Homo sapiens: one gene and its partner. The protein of the gene in region 1 interacts with the protein of each later gene in a biochemical or structural test. Each region holds a gene or a part of one and is shown in the gene's direction. Other genes may lie near its edges.

Region 1 (7,564 bases):
AGCCAGATTTTCGAACCCACCTATGAGTCCAAAACATCCACTCCTCCTACCTCTTAATGGCAGCTCCTTGAGTGTGACATGTCACACAGAGCTATATGAAGAACACTACCTGGTATTGTTTGAGACAACATAGCAAGACATACAGGACAGTTGAACTCAGCTTCAAAAAATGTTACACTAAGACACTAATGAACAATGAGGCATTTTCATTGTAGAGGTGAAGAAAGAACATTTTAGGGTTGAGAATGAGCACACCCTAAAAGTCAAACGGGCCGGGTGCAGTGGCTCACGCCTGTAATCCCAGCACTTTGGGAGGCTGAGGTGGGCAGATCACTTGAGGTCAGGAGTTTGAGACCAGCCTGGCCAACATGGCAAAACCCTGTCTCTACTAAAAATACAAAAATTAGCCAAGCGTGGTGGTGTGCACCTTTAATACCAGCCACTCAGGAGGCTGAAGCAGGAGAATCGCTTGAACTGGGGAGGCAGAGGTTGCAGTGAGCTGAGATGGTGTCACTGCACTCCAGCCTGGACCACAGAGCGACTCCATCTCAAAAAAAAAAGTCAGATAATCATTCTAGTCTGTGTTCCCGTATTACCACAATCTTTTGCTTTTTTTTTTTTTTTTTTTTTTTTACCCCAATGTGGATTCTTGCTCCAACCTAGTGATTCTCTACTCTGGCTGTGCATAAGAATCACCTGAAGAGCTTTTACAAAATACTGATGTCCAATTCTGCTCTGGGCAGCTGTTTTAATTGGTGTGGGGTGGGACCTGGGCATTGGTATTTCTTACGAGCTACCCACCTGGGTGATTCTAATATGCAGCCAGGATTGAGAAGCAATCTTCTAAGAGTGTGGTAGTGGTGCATAGGAAAGAGGCTGGCTTGCAGGAGAGCTTTACTTTTTGGTGGTTTAATGGTAACAAGCTTGCTGATGATGTTTACCATATAAGAGAGAGGGCCATATGTCCGGATTTGCCAGAAAACTAATTGATTTCTTTGCAAAACATGCTAACATTTAGTATTGACATGATGTATTCCTACCATCTCTCAGGACTGTAAGGAAATCTCAGGCAATCATCTATCTAATCTATTCCCCTGGATTAGATGAGGTTACAGAGTAAGAAATACTTATATGGATTAGCAAAACTTAAAGACATGTTTTTCTTTTTATTATTTTTTTTGAGACAGGGTCTTACTCTGTTGCCCAGACTGGAGTGCAATGGCGCAATCACAGCTTACTGCACCCTCAACCTCCCCAGGATCGGGTGATCTTTCCACCTCAGCCTCCCCACTAGCTAGGACTACAGGCATGAACCACCACGCCTGGCTAATTTTTGTATTTTTTTTGTAGAGATGGGTTTTCACTATGTTGGCCAGGCTGGTCTCAAACTCCTGGCTCAAGTGATCTGCCCACCTGGGCCTCTCGAAGTGCTGGGGTTACAGGTGTGAGCCACTGTGCCTGGCCTTAGAGACATTTTTAGAGGAAAGATAATGGACAACCAGAATGGCAGAAAGCCTGGGTTTCCCTTTTAGGGAAAAAGCAATTTCACTGTTCCAGAAGAAATCAGAGCCCCAGCCAGCCTGCCCTCCCACAGCCCCTTCTCTGAGGATTCCTGGCATGTGTCATCCTCCAGGGATGACTGCAGGATGGATGTGGCTGTTGGCGGCAGCAGCAGCTTTTCCTACCAGGGAAGCTGGGTCGGTAGACACTACACTGCTATTCCTGGGGTGGGGGTGGGGATTTCCGTGTATGTTTTATAGTTAGCTGGCCCCAAATCCGTGTGCTTTAGACCTAACCCTCTTCTCGGCTTCCACTGCCTTCTTCTCTCTCCTGCCCAGCCTGGAGTCGCAGGGGCAAGGCCTAGTTTTACAATGGCTGCCAGCCTTTCCCTTAGGGAGCCACATGCATGCGCTCACTTTTTCCAGTGGTCTTCTCAGTCTGATTTAATGGATATACCGGGACTGATGACACATCAGCATGGGATCCTTCTTTTGCTTCTTGGGTAACTGTCCTATTAACAGCTGTCCCAGGCAAAGGGAGGGGGAGAGTGTTGGGGGAAAGGAGGGGGTGGCTTCCTGGGTGAAGAAGGACACACCCTGGGTTTTACAAGGTTAATCAGCAGGTTCTGGGAAAGCTTGCACCTGCTCAGACTTGATCTGGAACTCTAGACAGAATGGAAGACAGTCTTTCTGTCTCCACTCCCTTCCATGGAGCATCAAATATCCTGGGCGCCCACACCCTGCCAGGCCTAGGCCTGCTGTTGCGACTGAGTTTGTCTCTACACCTTTACTCTCTTCGGCCCTTGCAACTCTTTCCCTTTTTCTGCCCACCTTTGTGAAATGGCTAAGCAGGAAACTCCACAGATAAACGATTGTCCAGTTTTAGTTTGAACTGTTAGGACTGAAAATTGTTCTGTATTTTTCTGTCAAAAAAAGACCAACTTTAGTATGCTCTTTTCACCTTCTCAAAATTGTCTTGTAGTTAAACACTGTAGTTGAGCCTTTATATCTCTCAATTTTATGTTTTGTTTTGTTGAGGAAGCATCTCACTGTTGCCCAGACTGGCACCATCATAGCTCACTGCAGCCTCAATCTCCCAGCTCAAGAAATCCTCCCACCTCAGCCTCCTGAGTAGTTGGGACTATAGATGTGTGGCACCAAGCCCAGCTTGTTTTTTTGTAGCGACGGGGGTCTCACTATGCTGCCCAGGCTGGTCAAGCAATCCTCCCGCCTCGGCCTCCCAAGGTGCTACTGTGAGCCACTGCGCCGGGCCCAGTTCTATGTTTAAAATACTTCCTTCTCAACCTTATTTATTTTTAGAGTTGATGGCCACACCTAAATATTCCTCCTTTCTTATACAATACCAGTCTTTATCTTCATTGTCTCACTACTTCGGGGACTGAATGGTCTCCTATTTTATTGTTAACATGCCATATCCTTCAAAACTGTACATCCTCCAAGGTGTGGTTAATTTCTGCTTTTAACAGGAAAATCAGAGGCCTGCCTGCTTGAGTCCCCCTTCAAGTACTCAGTATTTGAGTGTCTACTAAGTTATAACAGTTAACGCACAAAATTCTAGTCCTCATGTTGTTTATACTCAGGTATTTATTGGGAGACACGCGTCAGTAGTCCCTGATAAATGGAAAGATCGCTTGAGTCCAGGAGTTCCAGTCCAGCCTAGAATAGGTAAAACATGCTCTCTGAATTAGTCTTTGAAACTGGTAAACTAGCTCAGAAGTTTTTTTAAGAATTCCATGAGTGGTTTGCTGGTGTACGTTTATTATATGCAGTGAAAGTACTTAATCTGCAAACCACCCCAAATTAAGCCCCTAACTCGCAAGCACAAAATGGACTCGATTATTTACTGAGTTATCAGTTGGCCTTGTCCTTAGTTGTACAGGGACTAATGACTCACCTATAAATAATGGGCTCTTCTAAGAAGACACAGTTGAGTTGACACCTCTTTGTCCTATAGCTGGGAGGAACGCATTGCAAACGCCAACCCAATGATTCCCTAAATGGGGTCTTCGCATCAGCTGCGTTAAAATCACCCCAGCAGGCAGGTTATCCGGCCGCCACTCCAGGGTCATTAAATCAGACTCTCCAGTGGGACCTCGGAATTCGTAGCTTAGCAAGCTCCCCAAGTGATGCTGGGAGTAAACTAACGTTTGAGAGTCACAAACATGTTTTGGCAATATAACCAGATGGGACTGGAGAAATTAAAAAATGAGAAACATCCCTAAAAAAGCAAGACTAAGCTGCGTGGGAGGCCAAACGAGGGGGGTCCTTTGGGCTGTTTCTACCATGACAAAAATCGCCATTACCCCACACCTCTCACACCGCCAACGTTCCGCCAACGTTCCGCCAACGTCCCACCACCCTCATGATATCCGTCCGCGGTACTGCTCCAGCGAAGGTACCCTTGCCTGGGCCATGAGGCGCAACCGTCCCTCACAGCTGGGGTGGCTTCTCCAGGTTCGCACCGAGGGGAAGTTGGGGTACCGGTTTCCGCCGCCAGCACCCAAGATGGCGGCACGAGCGTCGCAACCACAAGAACCACATGCTTCGTGTCCCGCCTCAGCATTCTCGGGTCTCACTAGACTTTTGCAAGTCACTGTGGGAACCCTCAAGGCGAGGGTGTTCCGCACTCTGGCGGCGATACACCTTCCTATTCCCTGACCTAGGCCTTCATTCCCCCGCCACAGAAAGCGCTGGAAGCGCCCAACCTGGATACTTCACCCAACGCCCAAGCCCACTAACATCGCCCGCCGCGAAGGCGCGGCCGAGGGGCCCAGAATGCCAGACACTAGGGCCTTCGCCCTCCTCATTGGTGGGTCCATACCGCGGGGCGGGCCTAGGTACTCATTGGGCCGGGAATTATGTCAGTCTTGGGAAATCAGGTCCGGGGATGAGGAGGTACACTCAGCCATTGGGCCCTCTCTGCTGCCAATCAGAGGGACATCCGTCGACGGCCCCGGCCTCGGCTCGTTGATTGGAGAAACTGTTCCTAGGGTGTTTGCGGCGGGCGGGTTTCCGAGTGCGGTAGCAGGAGGGGGCGGGGAGGTAAGCGGAGGCTCCGAGCTCTAGGCCGGCCGGCGGTGGCGGCGGCGAGGCCGGGACTCGGGCTTAGGGCCTGCTGTGGAGGCAGCGGCGGACGCCGAGCTAAGCAGTGGGTATCGGGCACATTCCTTTCCCAGAAGGGAGGGTTGCAGCGCCGCGGGGCCGAGGCTTATGGGGCGACGGGATGGTGCTGAGGTGCAGGAGGCGGGGGCCGAGCGGGGTTCCCGCCAGAGCCCGGCCCTGGGCCTGACAGGGAGGGGCCCCGCGCGGGGCCGAGAGGAAAGCTGGCTCCGGGGTGGGATGGACTGGGCAGGGTTGAGGGCACGAGAAGGCGTGGTGTGAGGCCTGGACTTGGGAGTGGGGTGGGGCCATCGGGACGGAGGGCGGGGTGGGGTTTGCTGTAAGGGTGGGTCAAGGCCAGGGAAGTAGCACTTGTTCGCTGGCCGCCCCTGGAGGCTAGAAGCTCCGGCGCCGAGAGTGGGCATGGCGACTTGGTCTCAGCCGGACTCGGGTATCCGGGCAGGGTGGGACCAGCCTCAGGCTATGGGCCCTGCACCTACTTGATTTTTAAGGGACTTTGTCCGGTTCCTCGAACTTAATTGGCTCCTGGGAGGTTTTAGTAATAAATTGCGTGAGAACGGGAGGGTAGCGTAAGCAGGAATTCTGGGTCGCAATTGTGTTTACTCTGACCAGAGAGAGGGAGTGTGAGTGTGTGTGTGTGCGCACGTTCGTGTGTGTACGTATAGCTCGCTCTCCCCCTGTAGAATGAAGTTGGTAGATGGGTCACAACGCAGGAGAGGAGAGGCGGTATGTCTTGGTTTGTGACATTAATGGAAGCTCAAAAGTGGAGACCAGAAACAGATTTACTTCCTCTGCACTGGGCAGTCTGGCTAGAGAACGTGGCCATATCCTTCTGCTTTGGCTCAGAAGGTCATATGAATGAAAATAAAACCTGCCTATGCAAATTCTGGACGGAATAGTCCTGCGTAGTAGGGCCCCCACCATCCCTCTCCTTTTTTTCTTTCCTTTTCTTTTCTTTCTTTTTTTTCTTTTTTTGAGACGGAGTTTTGCTCTTGTTGCCCAGGCTGGAGTGCAGTGGCGCGATATCGGCCCACCACAACCTCCGTTTCCTGGGTTCAAGCGATTCTCCTGTCTCAGCCTCCCGAGTAGCTGGGATTACAGGCATGCGCCACCACGCCCGGCTAATTTTTGTATTTTTAGTTGAGATGGGGTTTCTCCATGTTGTTCAGGCTGGTCTCAAACTCCCGACCTCGGGTGATCCGCCCTCCTCGGCCTCCCGAAGTGCTGGGATTACAGGCGTCGGCCCTTTTCCTTTTTTTTCTTTTGTAAGTTGTGAGGATAGGAAAGGGAAATCAGATTTCAAAGTTCAGAAAACAAAAGGCATTCTTCTTCTGGGTGAAGTGGTGGCCTGAACATTGTCCTTTTGTCCTTCCACACTCTCACTGTTTAATAATCTTGCCTTTTTGAACTGAGAAAAGACAACTGTTATGGGTGGTTTTCTCCCGAGGGGTGAAAATCCAGCTTTACTTTTAAGACAGGAAATGGGCTTCTCATGTGAAAATAGAAGCTGGGTAATGCGCCTGTAGTGGGGGAGGAGGGCTGGTAAATAAAACAAAGGTGTAAGATATTTTGGATGACCTGGTTATTGTCTGCTTATTCAAACCAAGCTACATTTTAGGATATTGCACATTTAATATTCAGTAACTGAGATCATTCGTGATCAGTAGCTTTCTTTGATAGTTCTTCTATGATCGGTTGCTATATTTTGGGTTTTTTTTCTGAGAGTGTAAGTAGTCCTTTCTTCCTGTAAAAGTGGCCTTTAGGCCAGGCACAGTGGCTCACGCCTGTGATCCCAGCACTTTGGGGGGCCGAGGCGGGCAGATCACCTGAGGTCAGGAGCTTGAGACCAGCCTGGCCAACATAGTGAAACCCCATCTCTACTAAAAATACAAAAATTAGCAGGGCGTGGTGGCAGGCGCCTGTAATCCCAGATACTTGGGAGGCTGAGGCAGGAGAATCGCTTGAATGCAGAAGGTGGAGGTTGCAGTGAGCACAGATCACGCCACTGCACTCTAGCCTGGGCGACAGAGTGAGACTCTGTCTCAAAAAAAAAAAAAGTGAAAGTGTCCTTTGAATGTGTTTTCTACCTTCTACTGTGAAGGTTTTCCTACCCTGATCATGATGTGAAAAGTATGGAATCTTATCCTGTTGCTTTTGTGATTCCCATTTCAGGTTTCTCTGGAAACCCCCCTGGTAAGTGTGGAGGAGGCGGGACACTCTGACCCAAGACGAAAGGCCTGTAGCTCCAGCCAAAGAAAATAAACCTTAGGAGGGAGAAGGAAAAAAAAAATCCATCAGCTGTTCCTGAGAACAGCCTGCATTGGAATCTACAGAGAGGACAACTAATGTGAGTGAGGAAGTGACTGTATGTGGACTGTGGAGAAAGTAAGTCACGTGGGCCCTTGAGGACCTGGACTGGGTTAGGAACAGTTGTACTTTCAGAGGTGAGGTGTCGAGAAGGGAAAGTGAATGTGGTCTGGAGTGTGTCCTTGGCCTTGGCTCCACAGGGTGTGCTTTCCTCTGGGGCCGTCAGGGAGCTCATCCCTTGTGTTCTGCCAGGGTGGGGTACGGGGTTTGACACTGAGGAGGGTAACCTGCTGGCTGGAGCGGCAGAGCAGTGGCCTTGATTTGTCTTTTGGAAGATTTTAAAAACCAAAAAGCATAAACATTCTGGTCCTTCAGCAATGCTTTCTCTGAAGAAATACTTAACGGAAGGACTTCTCCAGTTCACCATTCTGCTGAGTTTGATTGGGGTACGGGTGGACGTGGATACTTACCTGACCTCACAGCTTCCCCCACTCCGGGAGATCATCCTGGGGCCCAGTTCTGCCTATACTCAGACCCAGTTCCACAACCTGAGGAATACCTTGGATGGCTATGGTATCCACCCCAAGAGCATAGACCTGGACAATTACTTCACTGCC
Region 2 (6,986 bases), about 34 Mb from region 1:
AGGGCTCCTGTGGGCCTTCTGACCTCCAGCTCAGGTCTTCCCCATCCTTTATCTGGAAGAATCCAGTGGCTGGAGCCTCGGGACCTTGCCTCTGAGCTGGCTTGGCTGTGGGGAGGGGTCTCTGGCCTCCCCTCCCTGCTCTGTGCTTGCAGCCTCACCTCCTGGTCCCAGGCTGGGTGAGGTGGAGTCTTGAGCCTGGTGAGGATGTGTGCATCCGCCTGGCCACACTTCAGCTCCCCTGATGAGAGTAAGAAGCCCCCCAGCCCATAATTTCCTGAAGTGATCCTAGCTCCTCTGGAGGAGTCTCCCATCTGTCTGCATCAAACCTGGAAAGTGGGGGATGGAGCATGAGGCGGGGGTCCATGCCCAAGGGTCTGGTGGGAGCTGGGCTGAGCTGGGAATCCCAGAAACATCCTTAGCAAGAAAGTGAGAGCAGAGTGCTGGAGGGACCCCGAGTGGGGAAGAGTTGGTTGTTAAGTCCGGCCACCCCAGCACTTTTGTTTTTGCTCCCTGGCCCTGTGGGCACTCACCCGGGGCAGGGACCAGAGAGCAGGCTGCAGCTCGGAGGGGCTGACTCCGCCAGCCTTCACGTTGGGCAGGCCCGGGGTGGCTCACTGTGGGAGCCCTTGTGAAATACCCTGGATGGGGTGGGGCAGGGGCTGCTTCCTGCAACCCAAAGCCACAGGATGGTTACTCCATCAGTGGAGGAGGCCGACTGGGAGGTCTAGAGGGGCCTCGGGCCAGGCTCCTCCCAGCTGATGGCCTGCCACCTGGAAGGTGGGGGAACTCCCTGGTCAGTCCTGCCAACAGACCAGAGCTAGATGGACGGCCCACCCCCAGCTTTTCAAAGTTAGGAGGCTGGGAGACTCGGGGTTCCCTGTAGCCTCCTCTCTGGCCAGGTCCCCCGTGGGGCCCCTGTGCACCCAGGGAGCAGGGGGCTTTGTCCGAGGCCGGCTCAGGGGAGGTGGCTGTAGAAGGTAGGACCCTGGAAGATGCACACACAGGGTCACTGGCTGGCCCTCACCTGCTATTGGCCAGGCTGGGGGCTGCGGCTCTCGTGGGGCGCTGTTGGCTGGCGGGCCAGGGAGTGCGGGCGCGGCGGGGAGGCAGAGGCAATGTGCTGAGTCAGCGTGACTCGCCAGGAACAGCCGCGCTCTGGGCAGTGCCGGGGTTATTTTTAAAGCTCCCGGCTTCCTTCTAGGCCTGCCTCTCCCGCGTCTTATTCCTTCTAATCTCTCCCCTGCCCCTTGTCTTGCGCCTGCCTTCCTAACAGCCTTCAGTTCCCCTTCTCCCGTCAGACCTTCCTGACCTCCCACCTGGTTCTCTAGGGGCAGGGTGGACAGGAAGCAGCTCAGCCCAGCCTGGGAGAGGCCAAGGGCTGCCTCCTATCAGGTATTGGGGGCTGGGCACCTGGACAGCAGGCTGGGGCGGGCTGTGCGGCAAGGGCTCTTGTGAACTGGGCCGGGGGCGGGGGGGGGGGGGTGCGGCGAGGGTGGTCTCCAGGGTACTGACCTGCTCCGTGTCTTGCAGAGAGCGCCTGCTCGCTGTGCCCCCGGGTTATGACGACCCCCAATAAAGGAAACAAGGCCTTGAAGGTGAGTGGGCAGGGACAGGAGCCTGTGGGCTGGGGTCGGGGGGCACAGTGGGCGTGCCCGCTTGGCCTGTGACCACCTGCACTGTGCCCCAGGTGAAGCGGGAGCCGGGTGAGAATGGCACCAGCCTGACGGATGAGGAGCTGGTGACCATGTCGGTGCGGGAGCTGAACCAGCACCTGCGGGGCCTGTCCAAGGAGGAGATCGTCCAGCTGAAGCAGCGCCGGCGCACGCTCAAGAACCGCGGCTACGCTGCCAGCTGCCGCGTGAAGCGGGTGACGCAGAAGGAGGAGCTGGAGAAGCAGAAGGCGGAGCTGCAGCAGGAGGTGGAGAAGCTGGCCTCAGAGAACGCCAGCATGAAGCTGGAGCTCGACGCGCTGCGCTCCAAGTACGAGGCGCTGCAGACCTTCGCCCGGACGGTGGCCCGCAGCCCCGTGGCGCCAGCCCGGGGCCCCCTTGCCGCCGGCCTGGGGCCCCTCGTCCCAGGCAAGGTGGCCGCCACCAGCGTCATCACAATAGTAAAGTCCAAGACGGATGCCCGATCGTAGGGACGCGCGTCTGCCCAGGCGGGTCTTTGCGGGGCCACTAGGCACATGGCGAATTTGGCTGCCCTGTCCCTCTGTTTCCTTCTCTTCTCTTTCCTCCCTCTCTTCCCCACCCTTCTCTCTTCCCTGCAAAGCACAACCTGTACCCCAGGGGCGCCGGGCTGAGCCCCTTTGATCTCGTCATTGTCGTCGTGTGTTTTGTATGTTGGGATTGGTCAGTTCGGCGGTGACGTGGGGTCGCCCCAACCCCTTTTGTACCAGGGCCATGCAGGCTTGGAGTCCAGAGTTGGTGCTGTGGGAACGGACTAGAGAGAGTTGCGGGAGAGAGAAGGAGCAGGCACGCTGGGCCTCGCGTGTCCCCGAGCAGTGAGGGTCCCAGTGTTCCCTCCACTCCCGAGTGGCCACAGGCTCGCGGGCTGGGAAGGATTCACTCTCTTTAGCCCCAGGGGAGCAGCTCAGCTTAGCCCAGCATGAAGAGATGGGCTCTGCTCTGAGAGTAGGGCGGGCTTGAAGGCCCTGATGGGTGGACCACCAGCCTGGGCGCAGTGGTGCTGGGGGCGTGCAGCTGGGCCCAGGGGCTGTGCACTCAGGCCTGACCCGTTGCACTGAACAAGACCAAATCTCTGGTTGTGCGCTTAACGTGAGGGTGGGTCCAGTGTGCCCTGCGATGGGTCCCGTGTCACTGTTTACATGACCTATTTGTGTGGTTATATAGCCCTTTATTTAAAAGAGAGAAGTTCCTTTTACAAAGTTATTAAATTAATTATATGTTTAAAAGTTAAAGAAAAAAGAGCTGCAGAGTATTTATAAAACTGTCTTTTAGAAAAAAAACAAGCAAGAAGACCATTTGACCATATGAATGGAAAAGGGAAGAAAGTATAATAGAAACTTTGCTAGTTAAAAAAAAAAGAAAAAAAAAGAAAAAAAATCCCTTTCTTGTAAACTTACGGACACCTCTTTGTGGCTGTTGGAGTTTAGTTTTTATATACACAGAGTTATCAGACATTATTTATAAAACTTAGTTTAAAAAAAAGACAAAAAAAAAAAAGCCAAGCCGTGAGCCGACCAGAAGGCCGTCCTCTTTGATATCTTTTGCAATTGTACCGAAAGTGACTTACTCCTCTGCCCTTCCTGCTTCCGTCTCTTGCCGGTGCCGTGGTGTCGTCCGTGCCTGGTGAGGTTTTGTGCAGCGGTAAAGTGCTGGTGCTTCTGGTGACCTTTGACCTGTGGGTGTCACTTCTTGTGTCTGTTTTCCCGTGTTCGTTTTTTGGGTTTAGTTGTGCTTTTGCTTCTGCTGGCTTGCTGGACCTGGGCTGGGGTGCCAAGTGGCGCCTGCTGCGTCAGAGCTCAAGGAATCTGTGCCCACCACCAGCTCCTGGTCCGTAGGAGGTGAGACATGGGGTTCTGTCATGCCCCCCTCCACTGAGCCTTGGCTACATCTGTGTCTAGGGCTTGGGCTGATCTAGTGGCGGGGTAGGTGAAACTGGGGTCCCTTGGGGCGCCCCACGCTGCTTCCACACCCACCACCTCTGGCCTTGGGTGGTGGCATTACAGGGATGAGGGAGTCACTGTGGGTGGCCACAGGGCTATGGCCAAGCGTTCCCTGGCCGTCTTCCTCTGGCCTCAGCTTTGTTCCTATAGGCTGCCCGCGCCGTGGGCTGCAGGTCTCGCCGCCCGCTTGATCCCTGAGGTGTTTCCATGCTGCGGGTGGTGCTTCCAGGCAGAGTGGGTGGGGGCCCACCGGGCACCGCCCTTTCTTCCTTGTCCCTGCCTCACTCTGAGAGCCTTGGGGGTCTCCACCAGTGCAGACAAGGGCTACAGTCTCCAGGGCCGGGTCTTGTCCCTCTTCTCCGCTGGTCCACGCTGGCAGCTCTTGGCTTCGGGCCTGCCTTCTGCCTCCCTTTGGGATCTGTGTCTTCCAGGGATCAGCTGCTTGGCTTCTGCTGGAGGTGCCTCCCTGTGGGGGCGCAGCCTGCCTCCTGCTCTCAGTTCCTCGCCAGAGGCTGCTGCCCTTCCTGGCTGGGCTCAGGAGGCTCCTTGTAGGCATATGATGGGGAGGGGGTGCCCCTACCCACCTCCAAGAGGCTACAGCCCTGTGTCTGGCCATGTGAGCCCTGGCCTTTCACCGGGTTGCTGGTTTCTTTTCTGTGGGGCCCAGACTTCTGTAAAGCACACAGATGTGGGTAAGATGAAAAACTGTGGCCCAACAGGGCTTAACCCTATGGATGGTGGGATTTTTATCCAATAGTTTGGCCTGGTGTGCCCACAGGATGGGAACAGGGAGGCACCATCAACACTTGTCATGTTAATGAGCTTTTCTTTGCTCGAGGTGTTCAGAGACAAGTCCTGTGTCTACCTGCGTCAGCCTGAAAATGGAAATATTGGCTGTTGACTCTTGTCATTTAGTGACTTCATCCCCCTCCCCTCAGTCTGATCTTGTCTAAGTAGAATCCAGGCGTTAGTTGGAATCATATCATAAGTATCCATGAAGAAAACGTCATGATCTGCCTCGGAGTGGGGAGAAACAGGCCCTCCTTGTCCTTGTGCAGCCCCCACTTTTGTCCTGGCTGTGGGTGGCCATCCATTTTGAGCACCTCTGCCAGGCTGCAGACCTGGAGGCGAAGGGAGTGTGGAAGAGGAGGGTGTAAGGGTCGACGCGTGCTGAATGGGAGGTGCAGGTCCTCGGTGCGTTGGCAGAAGAGGCTTCTGGAGTTTCGAGGCCATACCTCCTTTCAAGAGCTTTGGATTTGGGGCGACTTCCCTGGGTCTAGGGGAGTGTTCCTGTCCCCTGTCAGGTCAGCCCTGCGGAGCCACTCCACCCCTCTTCCCCTTCCCCTGGATTTCCTGACATAGATGGTGTGTTCATGTGCAGGTGTGAGTGTGCTGTCCTTCTGATCTCTGTTGATCCCGCTTTCCTACTGAGAGGGTGGTGGAGAGGGTGGTGGTCTCTTCTCACCTCAGTTTTTCTGACACAGCGAATCGAGGGCTTTGGCCAAGGCCAGGTCTCTCAAACTTGTCCGCCAAGTAAACCATGATATATGTCTTCCCTTCCACCTTAACTTTGCCCCAACTCCTCTTTTATCCTAACATGGACGCTCAGATTTCAGAGGAATACCCAGCAGGGACAGGTCAGCTCTCACCAGGAGAGTGAGGCCCCTGGCTGCTGCTCGGGGTGGCACTGGTGTTGCTGGCTCAGCTCTTGGTGCATGTTTCAGATATGTGTGTACACTTCTGACTGGTGATCAGGGCCCGGCCCACGGCCCTGAGCGGCTGCAGCCTGCTTTGGGACGATGGTCAGGTCCCATGTTGTCCCTGCTGCCTCCCTCTGGAGTGGCCACTTGGCCAAAGCGCCCATCCACATCTGGAAAGTCGGAGCCGCAGCCTGCTGCACCGTTTCCGCTCTGGGATCTTGTGAGTTACTTTTTTAGGCTGTGGTTTGGTGAAAGGAACCAACACATTAACGATTTTTCCCCCAGAAGCCACTGAATAATTCTTTTTGGTGTATTTTTGCCTTCCTGTTGGCTGTCTGGCCTTGGAGCAGGTCGGGAGAGTAGAGTACATAATCAGTGCCACACAGAGGCAGGGCGTGTCTGAGAGACTAATGCCTGTCCTGCCTCTGGCCTGTGTCCTGGGTGTGTACCATACCTGCTGGGCCAGTCCCACACATTTCCACCCTGCCCCTGGAGCAGCAGCTTTGATACCATGGGTGTCCCTTGAGTCTGAGCTAGAGTGTGTCCCCGATAAACTGTGAGACCTCCCTGTTCTTGGTGACCCCAGTTGGGCTTTGGCCCCTCCAGCAACCTTGTGTCCCAGCCCTGCCCTTCTTCCCACCCCCTCAATCTGCTAGTCCCTGAAGCCTTTAACCAAACGGGAGTGGGCACAGAAAGCCTTCTCCTGGCAACAGGACAAGGGCTGCCCGCGTGTCCAGCCCTGTTGCTCTCCTGGCGCTGAGAGGTGGGTCCAAGCAGAGTTGATCAGTCCCTGCCTGCCCTGCCTAGGTCTAGCCAGGGGAGGTTGTGTGTGTGGGAGAAGACCCCGGGATCTGCTGGGGTGGGATGGAGGTTATTAAAGATCTAAGTGAGGAGGGGCTGGGGTTTGGATGCGGGGTGAGGCCCGAGCGCTCACACTTCGTGTAGGGCGGGCAGGGGCCTGACCTCTTGCAGGGCAGTGGCCTTGGTGCCCTACCCCTGCCCTGCGCAGTATTTATTGCTAAATTATTGTCCAGGAGGGGCAGCACTGGGCCTGGCCCCCCGGGTATTTATTGCTGTACATAGTGTATGTTTGTGATATATAAGGTTTTCTTTATTTTGTATATGATCAATAAACCTTTTAAAGAGACTGGCAGGTGCTTCTTTGGGGCGACGCGGCGGGCGGAGCCGGAAGGGGTGGGTGGGGGCGGGGCCCATCTTGCGCATGCGCCCTGAGCGCGGCCTGCCGTGTGAGGCGGAAGCGGAAGAGCAGGTCTCCAGGGGAGCGATGGCAGCCGGGGGTCTGAGCCGCTCCGAGCGCAAAGCGGCGGAGCGGGTCCGGAGGTTGCGGGAGGAGCAGCAGAGGGAGCGCCTCCGCCAGGTACGCCGCCGCCGCTCCCCGGCCCGGCCATGCCCGGCCCGCGCCGCCGCTCACCGTCCGCCTGCCCGCAGGTGTCGCGCATCCTGAGGAAGGCGGCGGCGGAGCGCAGCGCCGAGGAGGGCCGGCTGCTGGCCGAGAGCGCGGACCTGGTAACGGAGCTGCAGGGCCGGAGCCGGCGGCGCGAGGGCCTGAAGCGGCGGCAGGAGGAGGCGAGTTCCGCGTGCGGCGCGCGGGCGCCCCCGGTTTCGGGAGCAGCTGGGGCGACGGGCGGTCCCGGGTG

What was found. Proteins that work in one complex are often made in the same cells at the same time.
Region 2: the proteins of NFE2L1 (region 1) and MAFG form a complex in vitro, tested with the Homo sapiens proteins (2 studies listed by BioGRID and IntAct, with this or other methods).

The regions. Positions count from the first base shown.
Region 1 is NC_000017.11:48,043,795-48,051,358, forward strand, and holds the start of NFE2L1 (endoplasmic reticulum membrane sensor NFE2L1), read left to right. Parts: upstream 1-4,564; 5' UTR 4,565-4,668; intron 4,669-4,986; exon of another isoform or gene 4,987-5,070; intron 5,071-6,812; 5' UTR 6,813-7,324; coding exon 7,325-7,564.
Region 2 is NC_000017.11:81,917,759-81,924,744, reverse strand, and holds the end of MAFG (transcription factor MafG), read left to right. Parts: exon of another isoform or gene 1-977; intron 978-1,278; exon of another isoform or gene 1,279-1,392; intron 1,393-1,512; exon of another isoform or gene 1,513-1,530; 5' UTR 1,531-1,559; coding exon 1,560-1,595; exon of another isoform or gene 1,596-1,687; coding exon 1,688-2,140; 3' UTR 2,141-6,475; downstream 6,476-6,986. Other genes in the region: SIRT7 (NAD-dependent protein deacetylase sirtuin-7), read left to right, coding at 6,614-6,706, 6,778-6,915. UniProt on the Homo sapiens protein: Since they lack a putative transactivation domain, the small Mafs behave as transcriptional repressors when they dimerize among themselves.